Homo sapiens: one gene and its partners. The protein of the gene in region 2 interacts with the protein of the main gene of each other region in a biochemical or structural test. Each region holds a gene or a part of one and is shown on either strand. Other genes may lie near its edges.

Region 1 (10,273 bases), on a different chromosome or scaffold from region 2:
CTCAGTTCCAGCCTAACTCTAAAATTAGAAAGTCACCTATTTCCTTCTCTTTTCCTAAGCAACTGTATGTTTAATGACACAGCAACAATTACTATGAAAGCAGGTATCCAAACTAAAATTTTTTGATTAATCAAATATTTTCCCTCACTTCCATTTTTCCCACTTGGTGGCATATAGAAACATATCCTCTTTTCCATGACCGTGGACCTCCTTACAACTGTCTGCTGTACATGTATCCCATGCACAAATCTGGGAACAATCTTCAAGAAGTTCATCTTAGAACTTGCAACTCCCTGGGAGGATCTCCCTGCCTGGATTTCTATAGTTAACGGAAATCCAGCCATACTTATCACTCGAGGCCCTGAGATGTTTACGGTACTATAAATTTTAGGCACAGTTTCAAGTTCTCTGCAGCAGAAGGCAGGCTTTTCTGTGCATTGCGTACTGTGGATTCTGTTCTTAATTTAACACACTCTGCACACTGTGATTATGATAGTGGTAAATTCACTGAGGCAAGGGCCAAGCAGGGCTGCAGATGGATAGGAAAGGTTCTCTGGCATCTTTCTATAAACTTACGAGGATGCTGGCCATGATGATGGTGGCGGTGGTAAGGGGAGTTCCTCTGACTCCGACCTCATGTCTTTGGCAGGAGTTGAAATGAATAATAAAGCTGGGTTTATGATTAGATAGAATACCAGAGCAGAGAGAGCAGTTAGAGGGAGAAGCTGTCTTATTTTAGGAAGCATGATGACTTATTTTTTCAAAATCTGAATTCGATATTCCCCTTTGCTAAGAATTGGTGTGGGTTTTGTTGTTGTTGTTTGTTTCTTAACAAAATAAAAGAGAAGAAGATTCCCATAAGCAGAGCTTAATCATTTAAATCTAAAAAGGCAATCAGCAGTTGATTTTAGGGTGGCAGGGTCCTGCCAAGGCCTTAGGAGAAGGCCGAGGGAAACCTCCCAAGCCTTGGATAACTAGCCTGGAGGGTGTGCAGGTTTCCTCCAGCTTGGGCACATCTGCCTTGCCCCATAGAGAATGTTAACAAGATACCTGCTGTTTTCCCTTCTGCCTCTATGCAGGACAGCTTCTGAAATCCTAAACTGCACAGGGTGTCACTCCAAAAACAGACAGATAGTAGCTGCTAAATTAGAGAACCCAGAGGGCACAAGGTTGGGTTTTGTTTTTCTAGGAAAGAGTGTAAAACTGGAGTGTCTGACTAGTGCCCCGGATAGGGAGGCTTAATAGGTTTGGGGTAACTCATCCCCATGAGCTCTGCTCTACTCTCATCCACACCTGCCAGAAGGGGTCAGGGTGAAGCCGATGGACAGCAGTGCTGACCCGCATGCAGTGGACTTTCCATGAATAACACCCAAGGCTGACTACAGATGTTTAGGTGGGGGTGCCGAGGGAGGGTTACTTGGCTGACTAGAATTAGGGACAGCCGTGTGCAAATTGCTTTTTTAGGGCCAGAGAGGCTGAGGCTGCTGGCTTCCAGTCACACAGCCTACAGGACAGCCCCTGATTTCACAAGAGCAGGTTTCTGATGCATGATCTAGCCCCACCCCTTCTTCACAGGCAGCTGTACTTGGAAGCAAATGATTTAGTGTTCCTGAGAGAGGATTGTACAAAGAGAGTACTCATTAGAGGGGGCTCAATCTGTCAGGTGCTGTTATATTAGGATCAGAGAGTCATCATAAAATGACTTTCATGCTGGTCTTGGCTGATAATTAACTGCATGGCATCGCCTGCGTATTGTAGAGAGGCAAGGGTGCTGATTTATGCATCCGTTTAATTATCTGAATTGAAAGACTCTGTTCCCTGTATTTGCATCCACTGCCTGCGTGCTTTCTCTCTCCCCCATATTTCTGACATTTGGATTTTCCCCCTACTAATTGACATGCCTGTCGCCTCCTTCTCCTGGTGTCCATTTCTGGAACTGCTATTTGTATATTGCATGATATTTTATCAGGAAAAAATATAAAACAGATCTAATTTCATGAAAATGCTGTTGCCATAATGCTCAGGAGAACAGGGGGAAGAGAGAGATTCAAGTCTTCCTAATGTCTACCTTATATGCAGGTACATTTTACAAGTTCTATTGTATTCTGACTTATTAAGCAGTGCATATTTCTTTCTTTTACATTAGCTTTCATTGCAGAAGGGTGTGGGGAGATGAGACTGCTGGAAACTGACGTGGGATTGATGTTTATCAGGGCTGTAGGCTTCAGAAATATATTAAGCCTCGGAATGTCCTAGGTATGAAAAAGATAATAAATAACAGGTCAATTTATTATATTCCCTTTATCTCTATATTACCTGAGAGAGATTGCTATACTGCAGTGACACTTTCAAGATGCCCCAATCCTCCAATCTCCATGCATAACAATTTGAAAAAGGGAAGGTTGACTAAGGCTGGGATGTTCAGGATCAATTTCTAATCAGTTTCAGGTTTTACTCAAATATCTCATGCTGTAAACTCTTGAAATGAATGTCTTCCCATAGTGCGCCGTGAGCAGGTTCTGCATTAGTTTGTACAGGTGCGACCTAGGTTCCTGCACTATTACCTAGCTAACCAGATATAGCTGGTTGCTTTGCGAACCTTTCATTACCTGCTCTCTAATAATATTCTTTTCATCCTCTGTGCTATTTTTTCCCTCCCGAGGCTTGTGAGCAAGGCTGTATCACAGCCTGCTCTGCCTGAGTAATTCACTAAGAAAGTCCCACGCAAACCCATGTGGGTGATAATATTTCATCACTTAAACCTCTATGAGCTTGGTGGACACATACCAAAGAGAGAGAAAAAGAGGTGCAGAAAAATGGGCAAAGAGAAATTTTGTACCTCACAGGGAATACCTCTGAAATGCTGCTGGGTGGGAAGGATTGGACAGAGGAGAGACTGTGTAAGCTGGAAGGAAAGATAGCTGGAAGGGTGTTTGCAGCACATTTTCCTTTGCTTTCAGAATTTTAAAAATGTTTTGAATAAGTCAATCATGAAGGCATGGCAAGGGTTAAGCAACTAAGCCCCTTGTTGTTCCCTCCCCCTACACTAAGATGCAAAATGCTGGACTCATCCAAAAGTCCAGCATCTCAGATTTGTGGGTCTATGAACATTTTCAGTTAAATAAGCAACACACACATGCAGTGTTTCGATTTGGTTTTGTTTTCCTCACCAGGGTCCTGCTTAAAATATGTTGCTCTTTTACATATGGGCAATAGTTATGTCTCTAATGTGAATGTGGAAAGCCTCGTTGTTTATAGAACACATTTAAACTTACCATGGGATGGGGGCTGGGGGAAGCCTCCCTGTAAAAAGCGTCTGTTCCTTTAATTTTCCATTCTTCATCAAGATTTCACTGTGCCTAGATATGGTATAGTCAATGGTAAGGGTATACACAACTACCATTTACAGGGTGCATTCTCTGAAGCCCTAACTTTGCATTTGGACTGCTTCCAGGGGTTTCTGCAGAAAGCAGCAAGTGAGGTCTTAAGGTTATTCCTCCTTTGACCTACAGTAGAGGATCTTTCCTGCAGTAGAACTATAGGTTTGGCCATAAATTATCTTGATTAATTTTTTAGCTTTAATTTCCCTCCTTAGGGTCCATTATTGATTTATAAATGCCCTGGCACAAACGTCCATCATCCATGCCTCTTCCATTAAAGTGGTGATGAAAAAGGTTAAATATTTTGGGAGAAAGGGGTTTTAGGTTCCTACAAGTAGCAAAAATTCTTAAGGTTTAACCCACAAAATTTCAGAGACTTCTTCCAAAGTTCCTGAGAACTTTGGCACTTCTCATTTTGGACTTAGGAACCAGTCGAGTACGAAGAATTCAGAACTACAGCTAGGAGATCACGTGCAAGTATTTTTTAGCAGAAGAGGGGCCAAGACAAATATGTGTTTTCAAGAAAAGTGCCTGGGAAGGTATTACTGCAGTTCTTTAAATATTACAACGGACTTTCCACCCTGGCATCTCCACCACCCCCAGCCCAGTCCATCCACTGCACAGGCCGCAGACCACTATTAATCTCTTTTCCCATCTTTCCCACCATTTCTCTCCACACCCTCAGTTCGGAAACAAACGCATCCTCAGAAGCCGAACACCATGTTCCCACAAGGCATTACAGAAAGAACCTTTTTCCTCCCTGTTTGAAGTCACTTGTCATTTGTCGCTGGTGGAAACTGTTGATAAGGCAGGAAAACTAGGCAACAAAATCAGGGGAGATGGAAGATGTTTTTGTTACGACCCGGGAGACCGTATTAGGGAGAGACTTGTGAGCAAATCAGTATCGCTGATGATTCATAGTCACATTTCTCCCTGCTCCGCTTTGTTTGCTTTTGAAATTTATCACTCGTCTGCCTTCCATAGAGCTCCGGAATGTTCACATGTATCACTAGAATTTCCATTTCCTTTCCTTCTGTCTCATTTAATGTATTACAGGTAGTCATGCTTCTCCCATCTCATAAATTCCTAACTTTTTCTGCAGGATGAGAGGGAGCAGGCGGTAACTGATAATCACCAAGATTAGGGCGCTACAGACAGGGGCTTCCAGTACGCGCAACTGCCTTTCCCTGGATACACTGACAAGGAGCAAAAGTCTTTGGAACGCGCCCTCTTGTGGCCGCTCTTCCCCATTATTCACGGAAGAGAGCGTGTAACCCCTAAAGGCATCCCTAAAGGAGGGGTGATTCACAGAAAAGTTCGGAAGGTGGGATTGGAATGGTGGGAGTCAGCTTCATTTTGAGATGGCTTTCTTGGGGTGGGGAAAATGGTCATCCAAGCAAAGCTTCTTGGATCCCTGTCTGGGCAGTGCAAACTTCTAACTCAAATCTTCCATACATAGTATCCTCCAAGGGGTAGACTTATGTGTTGCGCTTAACAACACCTAGGCTACGTGAGCACATCCATTTCTTGGTGTGTCATTTGTCTTTCTTTCCCTATTCTTTCTACAACAAGTGCTATCAATTGCTAAGCTAATTACCAGAACCCACATCCAGGTTTGACAGCATATGGAGACTTAGAGGTACATTATTATTATGCATTGATTGACCACCTACTGTCATGAGTCAAAATAAAATAAAAATAAGCTGCATCAGCTGAAAAGGCCACTGAATTTAGCTTCATGACATTTATAGTGATAGCTTGGCTTTACCCATCCCTTCTATCTTTCCTTGTGAAGAACTCTGTAGGCCTTAAGGTAAAACATTGAGGGTTTTGTGCCAGCCATGCAAAGAACACACTAACCTTGGTGAGAAATCTTGGGTGATGTGACATATATAAAAATAAAATAATTTTTGTTTGTTGGGATACATTTCAGAGAGCCTTAGAGTGATTCCCTGCTGTTTAGTCAATAACAACTCGCATCAACTTTACAAAAATTGAGCACTTTCTACCTAAACAGGATGGGACAAACTCAGTTAAAAGAGTCCTCAGCACTTCAGCTTTTGGAGGCTCTCTACTTCTGTAGCCAGGCCTTGGCTTTATCCAACAATCAAGGAGAGAAAAGGCAAAAATTAAACGTAGCCTCAAATTGAAGAATCTTGAGGTTGAAAGGGGCTGCTATGGGTCTGCATCTGTGGCATGCTCATGGGTGACAATGTCTGGATTCTATGCTGCACAAAATGGTTATAAGGGAAAGAAAAATGCATTCCTTTTTCTATTCTCCAAAAACTCTTGACATTCCACATAGTTGGAATGTTATTAAAGTTGAATTATTCCAAAAGCAACAAGACATAGGTCTTTTCTATTCATGTTCATATATTTGCTACAATCATTTGGATGATAAATGTCTTTTCTGGACTAGCAAAATCAGCAGCAAAATGCTCACGTGGTTTTCTGCTTGAAGAGTAGACAGTCCATACAGCAATCATTAAATACATGAAATTACATTAAATCAACTTGAAGTTGATGTGTGAAATCCCTCAGAGAAAAATAAGCAATTGTAATAAGTGTTTTCTAAGAATCCAAAGTCAAGTTGTAAAGTCAACCAGGAGTTTCCCATTACAAATCTTAAACTTGACTCAATGTGAACGTCCAACGAATCGCTTTTTCAAAAGTCGCTCATTTTTTTTCAAACTAAACACCTAACTGAGAAGTAAAAAAATGACAAGATCTCATACAACTGAGAGAAGACTGTCACAGAAAGGAAGACCACACATAAGAAAGAATGTAAATGGTCAAATTTTTTCACTGCCAAATCTCTAAATGCTAAGAGAGTGATTTGCTATACAAGTCCAGTAAGTCAGAAAGAGGGGCATATTGCTAGTAACGGTAGTGCGGTTAAAAGTGGTCAAAGGCATAGGTATACTTAGTCATATGACATGGTTAAAGGCAACTGGATACGAGCTGTCATTGAATCCATCATGTGTGGAGGTTGGTATACAAAGACAGGAAGCAACCCTCTAGACCACTGAAATCTGTTTCACATGCACAGCCAAATATTGTAAATATTTTCTTTTTTACCTTTTCCCACCATGAAAAGTTGAGAAAAAAAAATGGGTGTCAACTTGAAAAGTTCCAACCTAGCTTTCTTCCTCAAAAAGCTCCAGAAGATAAAGTCCTAATGATCATGCCTTTTGGGGCTGGGTTAAGAAAGAGCTTTAGGGAAAGAAAGTAGGATCTTCCCTAAGTGAGAGAGGCTTCTGGTGAGAGAGCCAAACTGGGAAGCTTGTAGGACACCAGGGCTTCTCCTGCAAGGGGAAGCCACACAGCCAGCAGGCTATCTGCACCCCCGGAAAGATGCCCTGGTCTTTCATGGTTTTCTTGAAAACAGAACATCTGAGTCAACAGGTTTTCAGATTGGAAATTCTGAGTGTTGCCTTAATTGTTTATACTGCTGCGGCAAACTTTTAAACAAAAATGCTGGGAGTCCCTGCACATACTTTACTGGCCATATGCTCTACCAAACAAAACAATGGCATTCCTTTCAAATGGAGTTGGCAAAGGATGCAATTCTTTAGCCTGGCATTACCATGAAAGTAACACGGTATTAACACATCTGTGTGCCTGACGTGCATGGGCTTGCAGGCATGCAAAGGATCTGTGTCACTTAACTATAAAAATAGCCTGGCTCCAAGTCCATGGGCCCATACTTTTGACAGGTATTGCTATTCAGCAACAGGTTAGTGTGGTCCTGGGCCAACGATTAGAATCTATTTATTAAAGTTCTTCCTCTTAAGGATTGAGTGAGTTCAGCGTAGTATCTGAGAGTACTTTGTCAAGGTTGCGTTCCTTGGCAGAGAGCTCTTAGTAACTTTAGAAAGAACAAAACTGGTTGTTTTATTTATTTTTTTTTCTTTCAGAGAGCAAAAGTCAGTGTCCCAAAAGTAACTGCTGGTTCAATGACAACTGTCCCCCAAAGTAGCTCTTCCCTGTCTTGAATGTGGTGCCTGTGCACTTATAGACATTTTCTAAAGGTAAAAATGACTGTCACTCATAAATATGCCCTGCTTCTCCAATGTGGCCCCAGATTGGACTTTTAAAGGGGAAGGTTTGTTTTAAGAGAGTGACTTCATCTGTGCCATTCCACTCCAATCCTGGTACATTCACCCCTCTACCCTCAATAAAAACTTGGATGGGGTCCGGAAGCCTCCTCTGCTCCCCTAGCACCCGAAAATGCCGCGGCTTTCCTCCGGCTGCTCAGATCTGGTTTCACAGGCAGGGCAAGGCAGCCCCTCACAGTCTGCCTTCCAGCTCAACATTGGCCCCGAGCTTCCTCTCTGTGTGACCCGCTGGGTTTAGTAAGTGTAAGCCAGTCATCTCCAGGCAGAGCTCGACCGAGAATTCCTTTTCTGTAAAGTCCTCTCCCCCTCCCCTGCCTGCCCTCCGTCGGCTAGTCCGCTACCATCACCTAATAACTAATAACCTTCCCAGGCAGTTTCCAGCTGAAGGGAAAAGAAGTTCCTCCTGGGACTGTCAAAGAAATATATTTTACCCTCCCACCCCCCACCCCTCCCCACCCCCTGCCAATGCCAGCACCAACCTGACTCGGCAAACGTGATGATCTCCGAGGTCTGCTCCATAAGTTCATTCATTTCTGCCCTCCTTCCAATGTCATCCTCTATCTCCACATACCCGTTCTCCCCGACTTTGCCCACATGAAGCTTTCTGATCGCGTTCAGAAGCGCCGCCTTGGGTACCGGCTGGGTGACATCGGGTCTCTTCTTCAAGTGCAGCATGTTTAAAATGTGCTTCTTGACGGCCTCCACCATCTCTGGCTGAGAGTTGGGTACATCCTTTGGGAGGGCGGCCAGCGCACAGGACGGACAGTCGGGGGCCGCGCTGTGCCCCTCGGATCCTGGGGTGGGGGAACTCCTCACTATAATCCAGCAACTTGCCAACAGAAATCCTCTCAGCCAAAGCAAGGGCATCCTGGCAGCAAAAGTTGTTGTGATTGCCTTTTTAAAAGGCCCTGCTTTTCCTCCCCCCTCACGCGCAGGTTTTTTTGTGTGTGTGGATTTTTTTATTTTTTTTTTTGGTGTTTTTTTTTTCCTTCTCCTCTTCAGCAAATTCTCTGGAACAAGAACAAAAAGTTTTCTGTGAAGTTTTGTTTGCAGGTTCCTCTCTGAATGCAGTCAGTGCTGTAGGTTTGTGGCTGTCAGGGAGGAGAGTTCTGACTGTCTCCGAGTAAGAGAGAAGGAAGGAGGGAGGGAGGGAGGGAGACAGGGAGGGAGGGAGAGACAGGGTGGCGGGGAGACAGACAGAGACAGAGAGAGAGGATGGGAGGGAGACAGAGACAGAGAGAGAGGAGAGAGGGGGAGAGAAGAGAGAGGGAAAGAAGGGGGAGAGAGAGGGAGAGAGGGAGGGAAGGGAGGGGGAGAGGGAGAGAGGGAAAGGAAGAGAGAGAGAGAGAGAGAGAGAGAGAGAGAGAGAGAAAGGATTGGCCCTAAGTAAGTGAGTGAATGGAGAGGGAGGGAGTTTGCTGTGAGTAGGGCTGTGATTAGGGAGGGAGGGACAGCCCGTTTTCTGACAGGCTGCTCTCCTTCTGCTCTTAGCTTCCTCACAGACACCTCTCTTCAAATATCACCATTTTCGGGGGTTCTACTTTCTCTTCTAAAATAAATTATCCTAATTTTGTTCACTATTTTTTTTTCTTTCTCTGCCCAGTCTCCTGGTTTCACCTTCTTCCTTTTTTGGAGGGGAGAAAAGAAACCCCAAACAAACACAGTGTCTCAATCAATAGGGATGAATTGATTGAAAAAGTGTTCCCACCGCCCCTCCACCCAGCCAAGCCACAGCCCTAGGTGGTAGAACGCCCACCTGGCCACGTGGTGGGGCAGAGGGTGCAGGGAGGTCCAGTGGACAGGTAGTGGAGGTCAGGGAAGAGGGACTCAGGGGTAACAGAGGATTGTTCTGGCCTGATGGGATCCAGGGGAGATGGTCCTTTCCCCCAATTCATTCATATTTAAATGTTCAGGTCATCAACACTGGCAGGCAATCTGAGGAGAGCGCAATGGAACTTTTGTTTGGGGTCATATAATACACTCCACTCTTCCCAACTGTGAAATGCAGCAGGGCACTGAAGGACCAGAGGGCAGGCAGCCTGTCACAAGCCCAAGTTCCAGAAGCGCTTTCTCCCCGTCGCGTTCAGCTGCCCCCTTCTGCCGGGGACCCACTCACTCTCACACATTACAGCCTACCACCACTCGCCGGACTTCACAGATAAAATGCAAAATTCTCTTGGCCTTTCCCACATCCTTTTATAAAAAGAGTGCACTCGTATGACTTGAATAACTGGTCCTATGGGAAAAGACTCTCTAAAATATATTGGCAAATTATTTTTCTCTGTCATGTGGTAGTTTTTTCAGCTTGCCCCAAGCCTGTCCCGACCAGTGCATTCATAGACAGCCTCCTTGACTGCTTCTTTTTCCCTCAAAGGAACAGTGCAGATGAAATCATCATGGATTTTAGTGTGCACAGAAAAAGAAAAATGTGAATTTTTTAACAATGCCTTTCTAAGGCTTAAAAAAAATTCTTCCCCCTCCCCTCTTTTTCATTTTCTGTCTTATTGCTTTTATCTTGCAGAAGAATCTTTAAGGGGTCCATCTGTTAAAGCGTTCCTTCCCTCTCGGTTTCTTTCCCACACATAAGCCCTCTTGGTTTCTGAAGATACACTCAGCTTATATCTGACACCTAGTGTGTTCATAGCATTACAGTCAAGCAATGCAGTTTAGGTGGAAAGAGTTAATAAATATCATTACTACAAGATAAGATCTGAGTGCAAGGGGAAGAGGGCAAGAAAATTGTGACACTAAGTTATAATTACAGTTTGCACAGGT
Region 2 (10,323 bases):
CACACCATTTCTCCATAACAGAGGAGAGAGAGCAGACATGGACAGAAATGGTGCCTCTGAAGCCAAAGCTCAAGTTAAACCTGCATGAGAGTGAAAAACTGAGAACAGAAACTCAGAGCAGGTATCTGAACCTGGCCATGAGGCAGTGCCTGCAGAGTGAGAGAAATGTAAGTTGGACTTAAAAGGTTCCCGCATTCCCAGTCCAAGTGGAACTGATGGGCTGTGGCTGCCTGCAGTTATGTCCAGCATCAGAAGCACTGGTGAGAAAGGACTCTAGGATTCCCTTTTTATGAATACAGAGAGGAAAATGAGATTAAGACCCTCTTACACCAACTCCTACAACAACAGCTAACACAAGAACTGAAGACAAACAGGCGAGATCCCAGAATTAATGTTCACTGCTACTCTGAGCAAAAATTGAACAGTAAACAATAGAGATTTCAAAATTATAAAGAGCCACTTCAGTATTCTAATTTAACCTTCAAAAATTAAGATGACCTAAAGCACCACGAACTGATAATTCCATTCCACCTCAACACCCTGTGCTCCTCAGCTATTATGAGAACAGACTGCAACCCAATTCAACTCATGTTCCAAAATGCAACAAGCAGCTTCAACAGGACATGCTGGAAGAAGCAGCACGTCTCATCGTTTACTGATTCATATTTTGGTAGCAAGGTTACAATTAGCTCACCGGTGGAGAATAAACCTATTTATAACACAGCAGTCCACCTGAAAGACATAATCATCTAAAAAGGTTCTTAGAGGAAAATAAGTGCAGGTTCTTCCTGTACTGATTGCAGATTCCCAAGGTCCTTTTGGATAAAGTCCTCAGTCTAACCTTCCTGTGTTCACAGTCACCATTCTGGCCACTTCTCAGCCTCCATGTTCTTATGTAACATTTACATAGTGCCATAAACATACCCAGAGTTGCGTAAGAATTAAAACGTTGCCAAACCAATAAAGCCTAAAGCAGGTCACTCCCTCCAGACTGTCTTTGATTAGCACAGGTATGCTGCCTAGTCGACGATGTAAGAGCCTGCCAGAGACAGAAATTAACTTGAGGAAATCTGAAAGGGGTCTACAAAAAAGCACAAAAAGAAAACCACACTGTGACATGCTGTACGTCTATCAATCACAGAGTATGTTTTTCTGCTCCTTAAGATAAAAAAGTAACCCAGCATTGCTTATTCACTGAAGTCAGAAACTGTGTCTAAAAATACCTCCCCGCCAACTGGCTATCAGTAAGTCAGTCTCACAAATGTCCCAATAAGAGTGACACAAAATATTTCCTTATTTTTACAGAGGGAAAACTGAGGCAGTCACAGAAAGGTTAAGTTACTTGTTCAAGGACAACTTGTAAGGCAGCTAAGTTCTAGGGCTGAAAACCAGCCTCCTCCCTCCATCTGGCTTTAACCTTTAACCAGAGTAGCCATTTTAATATGTTTTATCACATCTGTTCCAGGAGCTGTTTAAACAAAACTAATCAGAGGTCTCTACAAGACTGCACTTCCACTGTACTTAAAATCCATGTCCACTCAACAAAATTACAAGGCTTGGCTTGAAATTAGATTTTTAGTCCGCTCACAAAATTTCAAAATGTTCCTATGAGAATGTCAAATATCTCTCTTGTTGCTTTTGTCTTGAGAAATGAATGTCATGTTCTCCTGCTACTAACTCAATTTTACATTTTTAAATGTGAAAATTCCAAAGCCAGGCCTTAAAACATGTACACCTATCAAACGGATGCTATTTCTAACTGAAACTCATTCTCCTTATCACTGGCCTTTTACTAAGTCCTAGTTAATTCATTAATTAATAGAAACACCTATCCCTTACTGCCCCTCACATCAAGTCCAAGTATCAGGCATCAGAGCTGTCTGGCTCTGTCACTCCTCCAGCCCACGTAGGGGAGCACTATATAGGAAATGCAGGGGAGGGGAAAAAAATCAACTTCTTGTTATCCCACAGCCTCTATTTTCCCAGAACTGACGTTTTACTTTAAGCCCTTTGCAGCAGTGGTCTCCATAGCATACACTATTGGCAACTAGACGTGTCCTGGAAAAAACTGTAGTGTCTGGCCAAGAAGTTTAAAGGCCCTGGAGAATGTTTGCTGGACACACAACCTAATTTCCAATTTACCAAAAAAAGAAACGAACTCCCTATTTTACTCACCCACCTTAACCCCCACAAACATCCATTTTAGGAAGGTTACAAAAAAATGAACTCTGCCCCATTCAGAACCACTTGGATTATCAAACATTCTTAACTAGGCTCACAACCAGAAAAACCCCACAAACACTACATCAAATCAGCAGGGAAATGACTGTTAAAAATCCTGGATATATTAGGGGCAGGATAAAAATTCCTATATGAGGATTTAAAGATTTATACATACACACATAAAATGACAAACCTAGAGGTTCAATCTCCCTTTTTTTTTTTTTTTACTACCCAGTAGAGAACATTATGTTACACATTCCAAAAACATGGCCCTTAATAAGGCCCGACGAACATCCTTATTCATGCAAATCATTATCTCACCACAAATGTCAAGCTCTGTTCATACACCTTCACCATGTTTCTCAAACCCCACAGCACAGATACCTAAGCCACAGAGCAGTGAGGCCGAAGAACACACACGAGGTGCTTAGGAGAAGCATTAGCCCGTGAACAAAGACCCCGCTGCACAGGCTCCACCACTGGGAACAAATATCAAAGCCGGAGATAATGAACTTGTTTTTGAGATTCCAAAGTGGCATGGTGTCTTTTCTTGACTGTCTGGTTTATTAAAGACGACTGAACCCACCTGAGAATCATTATTTTTAGTGTAAGAGAAGAGAGCCACAGAACACACTTTATCTCCCATTGCTGGAAGGTTAGGGGCTGCTGAGAAGTCAAAGCATCAGGCTTTGTACGTCAGGAGCGAATACAATCCTGATCATCTCTCCCAGATCCATCTGTGGGTCAATAATCGCTTCAATATAACTGCCAAATATAACCTTCATCTGCTACCCCAAGGCCAAAACACATTCGCCAAGACTCTCTTAAATGAAATATTTTAGGGTTTCATCTGCTCTTCTCAGCCCCCAAAGCCTCAAAAACAACACAGCCAGCGAAGTGTCCCGCAAAAAGGTACCCGCTTCTACAGAGAGGAGAGTGGGGGGGTGGTATAAGGCGAGCCGCAGACTGTGGGGATTGGGAGGTAAGGGGTGTGTGAGGGTGGGCGGGCTGGGAAGAGGCATCGTGTAGGAAGGTAAATAAGTACTGACCAAGGGCCGGGAATACAGTCCAGTGGTGGGATCTTTAAATAATCTTGGGGGTTTGGAGACAGGTTCCAGGATTTCACCTGAAAGGCATCCACAAAGTGATTAACTGAATGGGCCCCCCGGGGTAGGGTGGGGGAGGCGAGGAGGAAAGCAAATACACCTAGATTCACATCAACCCTTGGGGAACTCGGTTCCATAGGGTTAGGGATTCCAAAGCCAGGCTCCAAAAAGGTTTAGGGGCCTGTTCGTCCCACTTCCTCCAAATAGCCTCCACGGGGCATGAGTGCCGGAGGGCGGAGGGGGGATTGCCCCACTGAACTCAAGGGATTGAGTGAAGGGGAAATGTGACTCCCTTTCCCAGAACATTAGGGAGGCAGTGGAGGGAGGGGAAGAAACACGCCAAGTGCAGGACCTGAAGGAAAGGTTAGAGACCCCTTCCCCTACAGTCTGAGGTGCGCGGACTCTCAACATCAGGTTCCCTCGGAGAGGCTAAGACCCCACCGCCCGAACCCCACAGTCTTGGCGGGAGAAAGACGCCCCCCAGGAGCACCTGGAGGGAGGGAAGAAAGCCCCCCGCCCCTGGACACGGTGAAGGGCAGAAACCACGGACCTCCAAATCTTGGAGCTGGAGGCTCAGACTCCCCTCTCTGGAACACGAGGGCGCTGGGAGCGCGACCCCTGAGAACTGCCCGAATCCAGTTCCGCCTGGAACAGGGCTCGGGTCCCCAGGGGCCCGGCGTGAGCTCCGTCGCCGCCGGGCGGCTGCGCCTCGGAGATCGGGGAAGCTGACTGGGGGTCACCCCGACTCCTCTGCGCCCCCCACCCGGCCATATTGTGCTCGTGGGGAGGGGGCGCGCTGTAGTCCAGCGGCCGCGGCTCGAGGCCTCGCCCTTGCCGGGCCCTCTCCATCCCGGCCCCCGCCCCCCGTCCCAGGACTCACCCTGGACCCCCCGGGGCCCGGACCCGCCGCTGCCGGCGAGCAGGAGGACAACAAGGGGGAAGAAGGAGGAGGCTCCGGCCGACTCCGCCATAGTAACCACCGCCGCCGCCGCCGCCGCCGCAGCCCAGCAGCGCCCAGCGCGCGCGCGCGCGCCCCCGGCGCCTCCCCTCCTCCCGCGGCCCGGCTCCCGCCTCCCTCTCCTCCGCCCGGCGCCTGCACGTGCGCTCCCGGCGGAGCCGGCGCCGCGGCCGCCGCGCGCGCCCCCGAAGGGCGGGGCCGGGGCGCGCGCGGGCGCCCGCCTTAAAGGGGAGTGTCCCTGTTAAAGGGGTGGGCGGGGCTCACGCCTCGGCCAACTTCGCGGATCGGTGCCGAGCCCGGCGCGGAGGAGGCCGGAGCCGAACGTGCAGTCTCCTCCCTCTCCTGCACCCCACGCAGTGCAGAATTATCTTATCAGAGTCGATCCCCCGCCCCCGTCGAATATTCTACGAATCCCGTGCGTGTTCCAGTTCCTCCATCCCTGCGCCTAGCCTCAAGCCCCCAGCGCGTCCCCTGGGATCATCGCCGCGGTCTCCTAACTGGTTTCCCTGCCTCGCCTCGCCCCCTGCCATCCTCTGGACGCGGCAGCCTGTGTGATGGAATCGCGGCACGCGCCTTTTCAGAACATAGCAAAGCTCTTTATTGATGACAGTATGGGTGAGGGTGCCGTGTGAGGCACTCTGATTGGGCTGGTAGGTAGAACCCTTTTGGTAAACAATTGGCATTATGCATCAAATGCCTTAAAATCTTCATATCCATTTACCCAGTATTGTCCCCTGTCCTCAAGAAATAATAAGAGGACAGATGTTTATGAAAAATGTTAACTGTATATTTATCATTGTAAAAAAGGTAGAAACTAAGTAGACAATAATAGAAAATGTTAAATTATGGCCCATCCATATGATGGAACATTATTTAGTAATTTAAAATCCTGTTTACAAAAACTATTGACATGAGAAAATGCTTACAAGATAATGTTAAATTAAAAAAGCAAAATGCAACACTGTTTACAGTATTATTCAAATTGTACTGATAATATGTGTTTATAGGAAAAAAAGACTGGAAGGATATTTACCCAATAGTAACAGTAGTTATTGCCATAATTTTTTTACTTTTAACATTTCAATAATTTCTAAATATTTTTCAAATAAATGTTACTTTCAAATCTAGAAGAAATGCTTAAGAAAGTAAACAAATCACTCCGTATCTTTCTGAAAAGAGGTCAGTTTCTTTAGCTTGAGAAAGAACTTGATATAAAGGAAAGGGCAGAATTTTTGCAGCCAGAGAATTCTGGATCTGAATTCTGCTTCCTACTAACTAGCTGTGAAAACTTGGGCAAGGTTTGAACCTCTCTAAGCACAGCTTCACCATCTGAGATCTAGGGGTGGAAAGGATGGCCAAGAGATAGGGAGAACAGTTGCTTAAATGGAATTCTCACCTTCTAAGTTTCACCAACCTGAAGAACTCCCATCGTCATATCCGGAAAAAATAAAGCTGAAGACACACTCGCCAGACACAGTGTACACACAATCACATAAAGTCATGGGGAGGCATTGTCTACAAGTTGGTCAGTGTAGCTGGATGAGTAAATAACTTATTCTCCTCTCCCTCATCTCCCCCAAATAGGCACACCCCACCCAGTCCGTCTAAGTGGTTTCCAATCCATGCTCTATCCACCAAGCTGTGGTGCACACAGTGCTAGGTTACTGTGTTAGTTTCCTACTACCAAACTGGGTAGCTTAAAATACAAATGTATTCTCTCACTGTTCTGGAGGCTAGAAATCTGAAACCATGGTGTTGGCAGGGCCATGTGCTCTCTGAAGGCTCTAGGGAAGAATCCTTCCTTGCCTCTTCTAGCTTCTGGTGGTTCCCAGGATCCTTGGTGTTGTTTGGTTTGCGGAAGCATAACCCCATGTCTTCACATGGTTATCTTCCCTCTGCATCTACATCTCTGTCCACATTCCTCTCTTCTTATAAGGATACCAGTCATTGGATTAGGGCCCACCCTAATCCAGTATGAGTGCAAATGATCTTAATTGGTTACATCTGCTGCTAAGATCCTCGTTCCAAGTAAGATTACATTCGCAGGTTCCTGGTAGACACGAATTTTGGGTGGACACTATTCAACCCAGTACAGTCACCAACCCCTGCAGTTAAGAAGGGAAAGCCAACCCCTCAGGAGCACATATCTGAAGCCAGGGGGGAGGGAGGTATCTTTCCTTATTTCTTGCTAAGTGCTGCCACTGTGGCTTCGAGGCCAGGGGTCCCAGAGGGGACCTGTGGTTGCTTCACTCCTAGACAGTAAAGTCAGCCACACAGCTAAATATACAGATCAGGGAACCAGAATGCTGGCTCCACAGACCAAATGCCACCTCCGTCAGCTCCATCAGCTCACTTGACAGCATTGAACTTTGGGCAAGATACTTTACCTCCCTAAACCTCAATTTACTCATCTTGTAAAATGGAGCTAATAATAGTTCTATGTCATACAGATATTGTTAGTATTGATAAAATATGGTAAAGCATTTAGCATAATCTCTGACACATAGGAAGTGATCTAAAAAGAATAGCTATTATCATCATTATGAGTTGACCTTCACTACAATCCTAGGAAGTGGTTGAGGCATGTCAGAGTGTGCCCCGATGAAGTGACTGAGACTTAGAGAAGGTAAGCGATTTGCCAAGGCTCACATACAATCCATCATTAAAGCCACAGCCTACTGGTCCTGTGCTTTCTTCAACACCATAGCATCTCCTGCTTTTCTAGGTACTGGTCTTCAGGACCCAGCTGAAGGTGGAAAATGAGGTGGAGCAGGGGAGGGGTTAATCATATGCCTCACACCCCATTTGTGAGAGTTTGGGGCATCTCCAAACTAGAGCTTTCCTAGGTGATGTGTCTACCTTCCTTTTAGGTCCCGCGCTACATAGAGACTGCCTAATCCCTACCTGTGCCCTTCGCTCCTTCCCACAGCCTGGCCCAAGGATGCTTCCTGCTAGTTCTCCTCACCATCCCTGAAGGCCCCGGTAAGTGTCCATTTTCGTAAGCCTTCTTTTTTTTCTTTTTCTTTTTCTTTTTTTTTCTTTTTTGAGACGGTGTCTCGCTCTGTCTCCCAGGCTGGAGTACAGTGGCATGATCTCGGCTCACTGCAACCTCCGCCTCCTGGGTTCAAGCGATTCTTCTGCCTCAGCCTCCCAAGTAGCTGGGACTACAGGCATGCGCCACCATGCCTGGCTAATTTTTGTATTTTTAGTAGAGACAGGGTTTCACCACATTGGTCAGGCTGGTCTCGAACTCCTGATCTCGTAATCTGCCTGCCTCGGCCTCCCAAAGTGTTGGGATTACAGGCGTGAGCCACCGTGCCTGGCCTTGTAAACCGTCTTAATCTTAGGGCTGGACCCACATCACAGTCTATGAACTTCTTTTCCCCTCTGCCCTGTCTCTTTGTCAGGAGAGTCCCCAGAGCTAGCAGGAGCCACTTCTCCAGGAAAAAGTCTTACTCCTTAGTCCCACTGACTAGAGTGACAACTCAGTGTGACAATTGCCACATTGGTCGCAACGCACAGAGACACCACTACCTAGGGGATCATTTGCCTTGGTGAGCAGCAGGGTCATTCATCCCAAGAAGGCAATAGTTCATCTTCACTCATCCATTCCACAAGCACTAAGCACCTACAGTACACCAGGCACAACATATAGACATGGATAAGTCATAGTCCTCGCCTTCATGGAACTTAAAATCTAATACAGAAAAGCATGAGAAAAAGAGCAACAACGGGTTATCTCTGCGAGGACACAAGCCTGTAAAGAGCCAATGAGGGCCACTCAGGGGACATGAATGATTCAGCTGTGAGGGGACAGGCTGAGGAGTTGAGAAAGTTTTCACGAAGAGACAGGCTACGCTGATTCTTGGAAGATCAGAGAGTCCCCCCAGATAGGCCTGTGTCAGGAGGGCAGGAGATGGCAGGAGACTGTTCTGCCTGGCATTTAGGAGAACCGTGAGCAGCCTAGCGGTACACCCAGAAGATGCAGGCTGAAGATGATGGACAGTGGAAACGTAATGTTGGTGAGCTAGGCAGACGTGGAAGTCTACTTGGAAATGGAGCACACTGGAGTGGGAGTCTAATAAGAGACCCTCTTCAGTACACTTGGAAGGGTTCTAAGTGTAAATTGATCATGTTTGTATTTTAGGAAAGGCTAAACTGATCATATTTGTAAACTGATCATATTGTGTTAGGAAGATCACTTTGCTGAACCAAGTGAATTTGAACTTTGTACAGAGGCTGGTTGGAGGAAGACAAGACTGGTTGTAAGGAAACCAAAGAGAAGGCAAAGCCCAGGCAAGATAGGAGGTGGACCTGACCCCAGGCAGCAGCAATGTGAAGGTGGAAAAGAGAAACAGATTCAAGAGTTCAAAGACGTAGAAATGACAAGATTGATTGGATACGGGAAATGAGGAAAGGGGATGGCCCCATATGACTCTAGGATAATCTTAGGTGACTAGCTGCCTGGTAGTTTCATTCAGCAGACTAGAATGGGCAGGTTTGGGAAAAAGAAAATTAGTTCCTTGGCTGGGCGCAGTGGCTCACGCCTGTAATCCCAGCACTTTGCGAGGCCAACGCAGGTGGATCACCTGAGGTCAGGAGTTCAAGACCAGCTGGCCAACATGGCAAAACCCCTAAAAATACAAAAATTAGCTGGGCATGGTGGTGGGCACCTATAATCCCAGCTACTTGGTAGGCTGAGGCAGGAGAATCACTTGAACCCAGGAGGCAGAGGTTGCAGTGAGCCAAGATTGTGCCACTGCACTCCAGCCTAGGCGACAGAGACTCCGTCTCCAAAAAATAAAAAAATTTTAAAAATGTAAAAACTGAGTTCCTTGTCAGGCATACTGAGTTTGAAGGTACCTGGAGCCACAGAGATGTAGATTTGGAAGTTAGCAGCATATCATTGTTGTTCAAACAGCTCAAGGGAGCAAGAGAATTCTGGAAATACAGCAATACCAGCAAAAAAGAAGACAGAAGGAACAGTGATAGAAGTAGGAAGAGAACCTGGGAAAAATAGAATAATAGAAACCACGGCAAGAGAGGCTTTCAAGAGGCCCATAGTTTGTAATGTTGACAAGAGGTCAAGTAAGATGAGGAACAAGAGTCTCTTAGGGCTTTGGTAACTTCTGATTGGTGACGTTTACCTGAGCAGGCTCAGTGGAGGATGGGGTGAAGGCCTAACTTCAGGAGGCTACAAGTGGGGGTGAAGGCTTAGAAACACTGAGTATCATCTATTATTTAAAATAACTTGGCTATGATGGGAGGGGGAAATTTGGATTTCCTTTGGAATGGTAAACCAGGTTCCTTGAGCAAATCTTCGGCTGAAAACAACGTAAAATGCTCAGTAAACTAGCAAGAAAGTGAATACTCAAGTAAAAGACTAAGAATCAAAGAGGAAAGCTAATCACCAAAGCTGGCTTTTCTGTTCAGAGCCTTTGCATACGGGTGAGCTCGGACTTTGGTTTTCACAGGCAAGCAGGATATAGGGGACAGGAGACAGAGCTCAAGCTCATCCAAAGTGGGAAGTCTAATAACAGATCCTGTGCACAAGGCTGTGACCCACAAAGGGTAATACACATCGTCTAAGGAGGGACCAGAAATAATTCACTCCTCAGGCTGGGCGCGGTGGCTCACACCTGTAATCTCAGCACTTTGGGAGGCCAAGGCAGGTGGATCACCTGAGGTCAGGAGTTCGACACCAGCCTGGCCAACATGACGAAACCCTGTCTCTACTAAAAAAAAAAAAACACAAAAATTGGCCAGGTGTGGTGGCGTGCACCTGTAATCTCAGCTGCTGGGGAGGCTGAGGCAGGAGAATCACTTGAACCTGGGAGGTGGAAGTTGCAGTGAGCCGAAATCACGCCATTGCACTCCAGCCTGGGCAACAAGAGCAAAACTCTGCCTCGAAAAAAAAAGAAAAGAAAAATTAAAAAGAAATAATTCACTCCTCCAGGAGACTACAAGGAAAACTGCCTGACTTAAACCTTGGCTCTTGAGATCGCACCATTGCACTCCAGCCTGGGTGACAGAGTA
Region 3 (10,958 bases), on a different chromosome or scaffold from region 2:
CTAACACCTTATAAAGTTATTAACTAGAAACACAACAATCTAGAAACTGCCCAGGTCAGGAGGTTTTAAAACTATGAAACTAGGCAGCTATTTGCAACCTCTCTAGAAAAGGCAAACTTTTTGCCTATAAAGATCTTTTCATGCAGAGGAGCTTTTAGTCAGTATATTGTAAAACAGGAACTAGGCAGTTTACAATTAGTGGTTTGCTTGCCAAAGTCAATTTCTTTCAGCCCAAATGGAAAGTCATAAAAGGTGGGGGGAGTATAAAACTGCAAGGCTAACTTCTCCTCCTCCTCCTCACAAGTTTTACATGTAATTCGACATGTGATCTAAAAGGGGAAACACTGAAACTGAAAATCCTCTGCTGGTTGAATGAAAAATCCTTAAGGAAACCTCAAATTTTCTACAGGAAGTGATTAAAAGTTTCCTTTATAAAAACTTATTTTGTGAGTTGCATGGCTCCGTTCACATTTTGTCGCAGGGCAAGATTGGAGGCTTTAATATCAGTTTCTCGTTGAAATAATCTGGGTCTTCAAGTTCTCACTAATACAATATCCACCTAGTGGACCCTGGTCGCTGTCACATGCCACAGCGAGTAAACTAAACTAATGCACACGCCTCTTCCAGTTTCCCGTCTGAAGATCCGAAACCTCCACTCTGAAATTAAACACCGGGATCTGCTGTTTTACAAACCTCTTCCCACCCTTACCTTTATTCTTCCCCCTCTCTCTGAACGCCCCAGTAAGGTGTCTCATTTAATTATCTGTCCAAATTCCAGACCACGGTATTGTATGCTCAGTTTTCACCGGACGCTGCTAATGCTTCGGTTCTAAGGAAAACCAGCCCGCTAAACACAGATCTTTGGCAACCCTTAACAGTCCAAAGCTAGGGGTCTTGCTCCTAAATCTGCACTGGTTGGGCCCAAGTTCCTTCTCTGCTTCAAGTAAGAACCTTGCTTTGCAGAACCACTTCTCTGCTCTTTCTCCTCCTCCCTCCAAGCTCACTTTATTTTCCACATAAAGCTCACCAGTCTTCTGGGGTGATGACTACATATCCCTAGTTTGACAAATTCCATATATAGATTTAAAGTATAAATAAAACAGATTAAAAGCCCATTTTGACCCTATTAGCTTCAGACCTTGTACAGAAAAGGAAGACTGAATACAAGTAAAATGCTGCTTAAATGTTTATGAGAGCCTATTTTCAATGACCTAAAAACAGCCTAATAAAATTTTGACAGGTAACTGGGAAAGTTCTAACTACCTTTTTTTTTTAATTGGAGCCACATTTTAAGCAAGGAGAATGGACTTTTGTACCACTGTATTAAAACTATATTTCTGTCGTTCATAAAGTTTCTTCCTGTGGCATGCAAAAGGCCAGAAAGGGGACTGGTATTTTGAAACTGTGGAACAATGCCCTTCTGTTTCTGTCCCCTTCTCGTTACTGTATGTAGTGATTAAACAAAAATGTCTGCTTTAGTCAAGATGGCTACAGGAGAGACTGCTGGCTTCTTTTAAAGCTTTTGAAGTCCGCAGCCGTCAGAAATCTCTGATCCCCTAATTATATCATTATCAGGCACATAGTTTCGGTATCTGTGACTTCATGTCAGCCTCAGTCCCTCCCTGTTCTGCCCGCCTTTGATAGGGCCAGGAGGCTCCCCTCTGCAAGCCACAAGGGCTGTTATTTAGGGTTAATTACACCCTTCCTTCCAAAATAAATAAATACTGTAGCACATCATCCTCGCTGGGCTAGCTTATGCTTTAACCTCATGCCTGCTACATAGCAATTAAAGAGAAGTAGGGGGCTGCAAAGACTAAACTGCTTCCTACTTAAAAAAATTATCTGTTCACAGAACAGTAGGTAGATTTCACAGCAGGGAGGTGAGGAGAACCTTGAAATTCGGAGACAGTTCGGGTTATTTCTTTCTAAAAGGTGAAAGCCTGCAGAGGAAAGAAGAAACTGACCCGCTGCCTTTTTTTTTTTTTTGGTCCTGTTTGTAAAATATGAGGTGAGTGGCAGTGAGACGCTGACAGAGCCTACTCCTCCCGGCTGCTGAAAAGCAACACAACACACACTTCTGCACACCTCGGACACCTAAACTCTCAGGGAGACCCACACACTCGCTCGCACACAGAGAGATGTACGCAGAGACACACTCACACAGAGACTCAGATGCACATTCAGAGATACAAAGACACTTAGAGACAGACACAGAAATGCATTCAGAAAGACACACTCAAGATCAGAGATACAGAGACTCACACATTCAGAGACACAAAGACTCAGAAAGAGACACAGAAATGCATTCAGAGATACATTCAAAGAGACACAGAGATACGCTGAGTGATACAGAGGTTCAGACACACTTTCAGAAACACAACGACACTCAGAGACACAAAAATGCATTTAGGGATACTGAGACTCAGAGACACACTCACAGAAATACACCCTGAGGCACTCACACAGACACGCTGAGGGCACGCGGCAGCTACAGGCCAGGATCTGCGATTCCTCCCGGCCGCCCGAGCCCCCAGGGTGCGGAAGCGGCGGCGTCGAGGCCGAGACTCCGGCCCCGCTCCCCGCTGGGCTGCAAACGCGCCGCTCCCCGCAGGCAGAGCCAGGAGGACCCTCTGATCAGCGCCTGCCCTTAGATCGGAGTCCGCATCCACGCGCCAGGCCACCGCCGCGACTTCTAAGAACACAGCAACTTGTCGCGACCTGCGGCTCCGGCGCAGGAGGGAGCCTCGCCTGCCGCTAACAAAGCCTCTGCAGCCGGCTCCAAAGCCCCGCGGCGAGGACGGGACCCCGGGCCCCGTGCGCCCCCGGCACCCACCTTTGGTGAGCAGCACGGCCATGGCGCAGAGCTCCAGCTGCAGCCAGATGAAGATGTAGCTGGAGTGGCGATCCATTGACGCCCCGCACGGCCGCGGCGCCCCCGCCGGCTTCCGGAGCCCCGGCTCGGCGGCAGCCTACGACCCCCGGAGCGCGCAGGGCATGGGCCCTGCCCGGAGCGGCGGGCGCCGTCAGCGGCGGGGCTGGGTTTCGGGCCGCTGCCGGAGCATGGAGCGCGGCTACAGGGCGCGCCCAGGAGCCCAGAAAAGTTTCCCGGTCCCCCGTCGGCGGCCACTGGCTCCCTTGCCCCGCTCGACTCTAGGGACGCACGCTAGCCCCGGGTCGGGAGTGGGCTCCCGGCCTTCAGTCCCCGCTAGCGGCCGTTCTCAGCGAAGAGAGTAGGGTCTCCACAGCACGCAAGGGTATCCGCCGCAGCTCCCGCCCGCGCCAGCCCAGGTCTCTCCGGCTCCGCGCCGTAAATAGCGCCCCGCGCCGGGAGCCGGCCTGCACCGCCCCGCCTCGCCCCGCCCCACGGCGTCCGATTGGCCGCCGGGCTCCTGTCAATCCGCCCCGCAGCGGGGGGCGGGCCCAGACGCGAGCGCTGGGGGACCTGCCCGGCGGCTCCGAGCGGCGCCGGCGTCTGGGGCGCCCGGCTGGGGCGCCCGGCTGGTGCGCTGCCGTCTCCCGCGCTCCCCCTTGCGGAGGCCTGCGCGTCAGTGACCTTCGCGAGGCGCCGGGGGAGCCCAGCCCCGGGACCGGCTCGGGAACCCGCCTCCGAGACCCTGACGGCTCAGCCTCGGGTGGTCAGCGTTCCCCAGCGCGGGGCTTCTTTTGGGTGCCCCCCGAAACACGCAGGGGGTCCGTGTGGTCGTCCTCCCCGGCCGCACTGCGTTTTCTGGAACCCCCAGGGGCGAGTGACAATGCCCCGGCCTGTGCAGGTGGCGGAGGAGGGTTCGGGTGGGAGCCCGGGGGAGGCGGCCCAGCGCTGGGGTCTGCATTCAGCCTTCGCCCCCCACCCCCTCAGCGTGTCCGCCTCGAGCTGCCCGCCATGGGATCAATAAAGCCCAGACAGACTGACTGTTGATCCGTTAGGAGCCGCTAGGTTCTCCCGGGTACGCGGGACGAGTAGCGGGCTAGAGACACTTAACGAAAATTAGCAAATCCAAAAGCACCCGGCGCCAACGAGACGACACTGGCCGAGACTGACACTCAATTAACCACCCCCCAAACAATGGCTGGCAAACACGCCGGCTGACCCTGATCAATATCAGCCCCGCAGTGATCTCCTCCTTGAGATGCTAATTCATTTATTAGGGATCGCGGGGCTGCCCTTCCCAAGGTACTCAAGGTGGTCTTGCTGTAGTTTTGTTTCCCCCTCCGCTTTGGAAGGAATTAAGGTTAAAACTCATTATCTGAGGGAATGTTCTTTTATCCTCTCCCTCCAAAACCTGAGATGAACAAAAGTCGACCATTTGCAAAATTCTTCTTGAGAATCTGCCAGAGCTTCCCTACCGGATATGTCAAAAGGGGGTGGGGGGTGGGGAAGGAAAGAAAGAGAAGCACATTTCATGCTAAGGTGAGAATTATAAAGACAAATCCTTTAGGACTAGAGTGCAGACATGAGCTTTGAGACTAAGAAAAATGTACATATGTCTTGAGGACTGAAAGTCAAGGCGAACATATCTCAAACGCCTAACCTTTTAAAGTTGTTGAAAGTCTGCAGAGCTGCAGGATGTAGTTAATGAAATTGTCTTTGAAAAATAATGTTTATGTGCAGAAAAATAAAATAATTTCATAAACTGATGCTCAGACCATTACTTCTCTAGATCAAAATTGCATCTAAAAGGAGAGAAGGAGAAATCCAGTAGAAGTTTTAAAAGAAAATTAAACTGGTTAGGGCACCAGGTAAACAGCAGGTTTCTCAGAAAAGTTTCTCAAGGGGCGTGCTGACAAGGCAGTCCTGGGGCCGAGTTTGATTAGAACTTCCTGGCTACTAGAACCTTGACAAGTTAACAATTGTAAGGGTTTTATGCAGACAAGACTTTTTTTTTTTTTTTTTTTTTTTTTGAGACGAGTCTGGCACTGTCGCCCAGGCTGGAGTACAGTGGCGCGATCTCGGCTCACTGCAACCTTCCGCCTCCCGGGTTCAAGCCATTCTCCTGCCTCAGCCTCCTGAGTAGCTGGGATTACAGGCACCTGTCTCCACGCCTGGCTAATTTCTGTATTTTTATAGAGACGAGGTTTCGCCATGTTGGTCAGGCTGCTCTCGAACTTCCGACCTCGTGATCCGCCCGCCTCGGCCTCCCAAAGTGCTGGGATTTACAGGCGTGAGCCACCGCGCCCAGAGGACAATACTTTTTATGTAATGATTACACTCTCTTTTAGAGTCAATTATTAGCTAAAAGGAAACTTTCAGGGTATGTTAGTTCAACCTGGCCTCCCACCGTAGGCGAGGCTTGCAATGTCTGGGGGTATAAAGATGTCAGAAACTAGATAGTAAATCTCAAAACAATGGAGCTGGACAATAATGGAGATTTATGTGCATGATGTTACAATGCCTAAAAGAAAGAGGTTAACTAGTCTAGGAAGGTAAAGAGAGCCGGTAAAGTCTAGAAGCAATGACATTAAGGATTGGAAGAAGACCATTACAAGCACAGAGGACCACAGGACTTAGGCATGAAATATGATTGTGTAGGTGAGTAGGAGTGGTAAGCAGCGAACAGGTAGTTGGGATGACAAGCAAGTCTTTGTGATTGCAGCATAAAATGTGAAGAAGTGAACAGAGACGTATCAGAAATGAACTATACTTCCCTTTGATACAGATAAATATTTAATGGAAGAGGTCTGGGGAATGTGTTGGTGAAAGTTGCATTCTAGTAGACACTTTCTGAGTGTCTCCCAGCCCAAGTCAGAGAATGTCCCTTTTCCCGGAGTGGGCGTTGGCAACCTGATTAGGAGACTCTGATCTCCTAATCTCTGGCCATAGCTAGTCACATGACCCAGGTTAGGTCAGTTAGATTCTCTCTTCTGTGTCTTTGAGCAGACATGCTGCTCAGTCCCTTGAGGTCATTTCACGGGAGACATAAAAATTTTGCTTTGGGGCAGCTGTAGTCCACCTGTCTGCAGAGGAAGAAAAATAATGAAGATATGCAAAGTGGCAAATACATAAATCCAAATGGATTTCCAGGCACTCAGCGTCACTTCTTGTCCTTAGGTTAATTCAGTAACCTTAATAAAGTCCCCTTTTTACTTAAGGTTCTTTTCCTTGCAACCCAAAGAAACCAAACTAAGATATTTGTATTTTATTGAATTAATGTTGACTTTGAGCACTCCAGGTTGTATATATTTTTTTGTTCCAAGTCCAATTCTGAATAAGAACTTGGGATCCATTTTTTAGACAATGATTTCAACTATTTTGTTTTTATTATTAATGGGCAAACTTTCTAAATGACCAGAAATTAAAGAGAAACAAGTCCGCACTTTATCTAATGGTTCTGGGGAAGACATGGACTTTTCAACTAAATGAATCAGAGTGTTTGAATCAATGTAGAATATCAAAATCAGTTTAGGGATAATGTGTCAATCATAAGGCCATATCAATAGTTGAGAGAATAGGCAACAATTTTAATTCAATTTAACATTCTTAAGGAAAATTGCTTCTCTAGAGAATTTTACTTATGCTTTGCACATAATTCAGTTATTACTTTCCTACATGTAGGTTGATAAGTAGAGGGAAAAAAAATAGTACAATCTACTGTCCTTTTGAAGTTTAAAGCAAGAAATGAAATCAACGACCAAAATTCTTTTTACATCTACAAAGGGATTCCGAAAATACCTAGGAACAAGCTCTCTATACCCAAGAACAGAAAACTGATTCTAGACCTAACTGAAACCGTTAAACAGTAGAATAGTTTTTTATTACCTTCAAACAGCATTCAAGATATAATTTATCCATGGGAGATATATATGTATATATATAGGCGCGAGCCACCATGCCCGACTAATTTTTTAATTTTTTTGTAGAGATGGTGGTCTCCCTATGTTACTGAGGCTGGTCTCAGAATTCCTGGGCTCAAGCAATCCTCCTGCCTGAGCCTCCAAAAGTGCTGGGATTATAGGTGTGAGCCACCATGCTGGCCGTATAGATGTTTTAAAGATTTTAAATGATGTCTTTGAAATTATAGGCTAAACATGTAACTAAATGGCACTAAATTGTGAATGGGAGAGTAGAGAGTTACTTGCTTTTTTTTGCTTTTTTAGAGACGAAGGCCTCCCTCTGTTACTCAGGCTGGAGTACAGCGCTGCAATCATAGCTCACTGTAGCCTCGAACCACTGGCCCCAGCCTCCCAAGTAGCTAAGGTGCTCCCCACTGCATGGGGCTAATTTCTATACTTTTTGTTGAGACAGAGTCTCCTTATGTTGCCCAGGCTGGTCCCAAACTTCTAGCCTCGAGTGACCCTCCCACCTTAGCCTCCCAAGTAGCTGGGATTACAGGTGTGAGCTTGACTATCTTATCAGAGAGTTATTTGTGTTTAAGGGATTCATAGCAGAATAGGAGCTTATTTGTTAGGTGACCAGATAGAACAAAGGAAGATTATACAATCTGAGAAAAGCGCATCAGAAGTTCTTCCCTTAATACCAAGGATAAGAACAAGAATTCTGTTCATTGATGACCTCACTTAGGGTGTACTCTCTTCATAACCTGTGTCCATAAATCTCGTTAAAATGCATTAAATATTTGAAGATATGCACGTTTGGCTGGCATTTTATTTCATGGCTTGAACTCACACATCAAATATAATGTGTGTCTTGATACTTTGTAAATGATAAAACAAATACTATATAGTTAGTTATTTTCTCAGGAATTATTATGAAATAAAAACAATGACAGTGGCCAGAACATAATAGCAAATAAATAAATAAATAAATAAAAATAAAACATTTATAGTACATCGTTAGTCAACTTGCTTAATTAAAAGGAAGAGAGACACACTAAAGATTAATTTAGGAGGGGTTTGTGGTATGGACAAAATAGGCTTATGGTATGGTTACTACTAACTGGTCATTGACAAGCACCGCTTATCAGCTCGGGGAGCCAACCTTCCTGGAGCCAGAAGCCAGAGACTTGGGCCTCTTTTTCTCAGGGTTGTCTTTGCTTCTCACCTCTTTGCCAGTGGGCTGTCATCCTCTCCTTATTTGTAGTTTTTACTCTCATAATTTCTGCTTTTATTTTTTTTTTGTCCAAGCATGAGTCCCCTATACAGAGAGATACTACCCAAGAGATGGTTTCACCTTCTATCACTACTGCAAACTATCACAGTCATTTGTTCAGCTTACGGAGACACCATCCCCAAATACTCAGTCTGTGATCTCTTGGGCTTGGATAGGGTTCTGGCTAATATAAAACCTGGGTACTGCTCTCAGCAAGGGTGTGAGCCAGAAAGAACACACAGAAAGAGATATGGGCAGGCTGGCACCATAAAGCATGTCATATTATATAAAGTTAATTCACCTATAAAGCAAAATAAAGTAGGCCAGGCTCAGAGGCTCACACCTGTAATTCTAGCACTTTGGGAGGCTGAGGTGGGAGGATCACATGAGTTCAGGAGTTTGAGACCAGCAAGCCCGGTAGCAGATGCCTGTAGTCTCAGCTACTTGGGAGGCTAAAGTAGGAGGATTACTGGAGCCCAGGCGTTCCAGGCTGCAGTGAACTAAGATCACACCACCACACTTCAGCCTGGGCAACAGAGAGAGACCATCTCAAAAGAAAAGAAATATATTAGTGAGTGAATTTTGACCTTAGCCAAAAGGCTGAGAAGTGATTAGTGAGTGGAATTAAGATCATTCCTCCAAGCCAGGCACGGTGGTTCATGCCTGTAATCCCAGCACTTTGAGAAGCTGAGGCAGATGGATAACTTGAGGTCAGGAGTTTGAGAACAACCTGGCCAATATGGTGAAACCCCATCTCTACTAAAAATATAAAAATTAGCCGAGCATCGTGGCACATGCCTGTAATCCCAGCTACTGGGGAGGCTGAAGCAGGAGAATCTCCAGGAGGCGGAGGTTACTGTGAGCCAAGATTGCGCCACTGCACTCCAGCCTGGACAACAGAGTGAGACTCTGTCTCAAAAAAAAAAAAAATCATTCCTTCAAATTATTACTTCTGTGTGACTTTATCACTTGAGTGTTTGCTATCATCTAAAATAACTTAATGTAGCCATTTGAAGACAGCCCATTTTAAACAGACTGAAGACTCAGAACCTTGCAGAGTACAAGACTTTCCAGAGTCCAGGACCATTTTGAACTCGTGGATTATTTTTAATATACAACAATCTTGAACATCTTGTCTTCTTAGTGGGGCCATGGCAACGAGCAGAGCTTTTTATTAGTTTCTTGAGAAAGGTGAGTATTTGGAGTGAATAGTCAACCTGGCATTTTCCACATATAGTGGCGGGGGGAAGAGCAGGCAAGATGCCCATGATGCAATGTCTATGAGCAATGGCATTGCTTGCCAGTCTGTATGGAATACATGAGCAAAATCCATCAATATTACAGCCAAAGGGTCAAAGTAGTCACTTGTTTCCTTGGAGGTCCATCCACTTGGCTCCACCCCATACCACTTAGTTGTTCCTCATTAAATGACAGGAGTATATAAAAAGAGTTCCCTGGGCCTCGCAAGGTGGTTCACACCTATAATCCCAGCACTTTGGGAGGCCAAGGAGGGTGGATCACTTGAATCCAGGAGCTCAAGACCACCCTAGGCAACGCGGTAAAACCCCATCTCTACTAAAAATACAAAAATTAGCTGGGTGTGGTGGTGCATGCCTGTAATCCCAGCTACTCAGGAGGCTGAGGCTGGAGAATCCCTTGAGCCAGAGATGGGGAGGCTGCAGCAAGCCGAGATCGCACCACTGCACTCCAGCCTGGGTAACAGAGCAAGGAAAAAGTAACACTAAAGTAAGAAACTGAAGTCCTGCATTTGTATCCACACTCCATTACTCAATGTTTTGTTTGTGTGTTTTTTGAGACGGCCTGGCTCTGTCACCCAGGCTGGAGTGCACTGGCACAATCTCAGCTCACTGCAGCCTCCACCACCATGGCTCAAGTGATCCCCTCACCTCAGACTCCCCAGTAGCTAGGACTACAGGTGCATGCCACCGCACCCTGCTAATTTTTAAATATTTTGTAGAGACAGGGTCTCGCCATGTTGCCCAAGCTGGTTGTTTATTTTATTATTATTATTATTATTATTATTATTTTTGAGATAGAGTCTTGCTCCATTGCCCAGGCTGAAGTGCAGTGGAGCGAGCTCACTGCAGCCTCCACCTCCCAGGTTCAAGCAATTCTCGTGCCTCACCCTCCTGAGTGGCTAGGATTACAGATGTTTGCCACCATGCCTGGATAACTTTTGTATTTTTGATAGAGGCAGGGTTTCACCGTTTTGGCCAGGCTGGTCTCGAACTCCTGGCCTCAAGTGATTCGCCTGCCTCAGCCTCCCAAAGTGCTGGGATCACAGGCATGAACCTCCACGCCCAGTATACTCAATGAGTTTTTATGAGCCAATCAATTGGCCCCTTGGTACTCAGTTTTCTTGCCCATAAAATGAGAACAAGAGTGTTTGGTAGCCTGCCTGCTCCAGAGATTGCTACTAGTACAACTTGAGGTCTTCGTGTAAGTTTTGTTAACTGTGAATCTCTATAGAAATGGTGACCAATTTTCCTTAGAAATCGGTCTAAGGAAAAAATTTGTAATATCTGAATGTATTTATGATGGCTTCAGGACTTCCCAGGTGGTTTCAGGATTTTCTCCTCCCTGGAGCTGAAGATTTGAAGTGCAAATAATGTTACTGCCAAGTCAGACTGCAGCCTGGGCAGGGTGGTGGTATCTCTCTAAAAACGCGGAATCTTGCCAACAAACGTTTGCTCCCATGACTGGTGATAGTCCAAGAATCAGCTGAGACAAATTGGTCGCCTAACTTATCATTACGCAAGAAACTTAGCTGCTCTCATGGAACCATAACTCGTGCCTCTAGTCTGCTGGAAAACACAACTCTTCCACCCTGCAACGTGACACCTTGAGATAACCCATCTCCTATCCAATGGCATTTTTCGAAGAAGTCTGATGT

The links.
Region 1: the proteins of ACVR1B (region 2) and INHBA form a complex in vitro, tested with the Homo sapiens proteins (one study listed by BioGRID).
Region 3: the proteins of ACVR1B (region 2) and BAMBI form a complex in vitro, tested with the Homo sapiens proteins (one study listed by BioGRID).

What each region holds. Positions count from the first base shown.
Region 1 is NC_000007.14:41,692,010-41,702,282, forward strand, and holds part of INHBA (inhibin beta A chain preproprotein), read right to left. Parts: intron 8,509-10,273; 5' UTR 8,366-8,508; coding exon 7,978-8,365; intron 2,080-7,977; exon of another isoform or gene 1,910-2,079; intron 1-1,909. UniProt on the Homo sapiens protein: Inhibins/activins are involved in regulating a number of diverse functions such as hypothalamic and pituitary hormone secretion, gonadal hormone secretion, germ cell development and maturation, erythroid differentiation, insulin secretion, nerve cell survival, embryonic axial development or bone growth, depending on their subunit composition.
Region 2 is NC_000012.12:51,945,721-51,956,043, reverse strand, and holds the start of ACVR1B (activin receptor type-1B isoform a precursor), read right to left. Parts: upstream 4,346-10,323; 5' UTR 4,301-4,345; coding exon 4,210-4,300; intron 3,350-4,209; exon of another isoform or gene 3,273-3,349; intron 2,661-3,272; exon of another isoform or gene 2,545-2,660; intron 1-2,544. UniProt on the Homo sapiens protein: Transmembrane serine/threonine kinase activin type-1 receptor forming an activin receptor complex with activin receptor type-2 (ACVR2A or ACVR2B).
Region 3 is NC_000010.11:28,669,849-28,680,806, reverse strand, and holds the start of BAMBI (BMP and activin membrane-bound inhibitor homolog precursor), read right to left. Parts: upstream 3,287-10,958; 5' UTR 2,910-3,286; coding exon 2,834-2,909; intron 1-2,833. UniProt on the Homo sapiens protein: Negatively regulates TGF-beta signaling.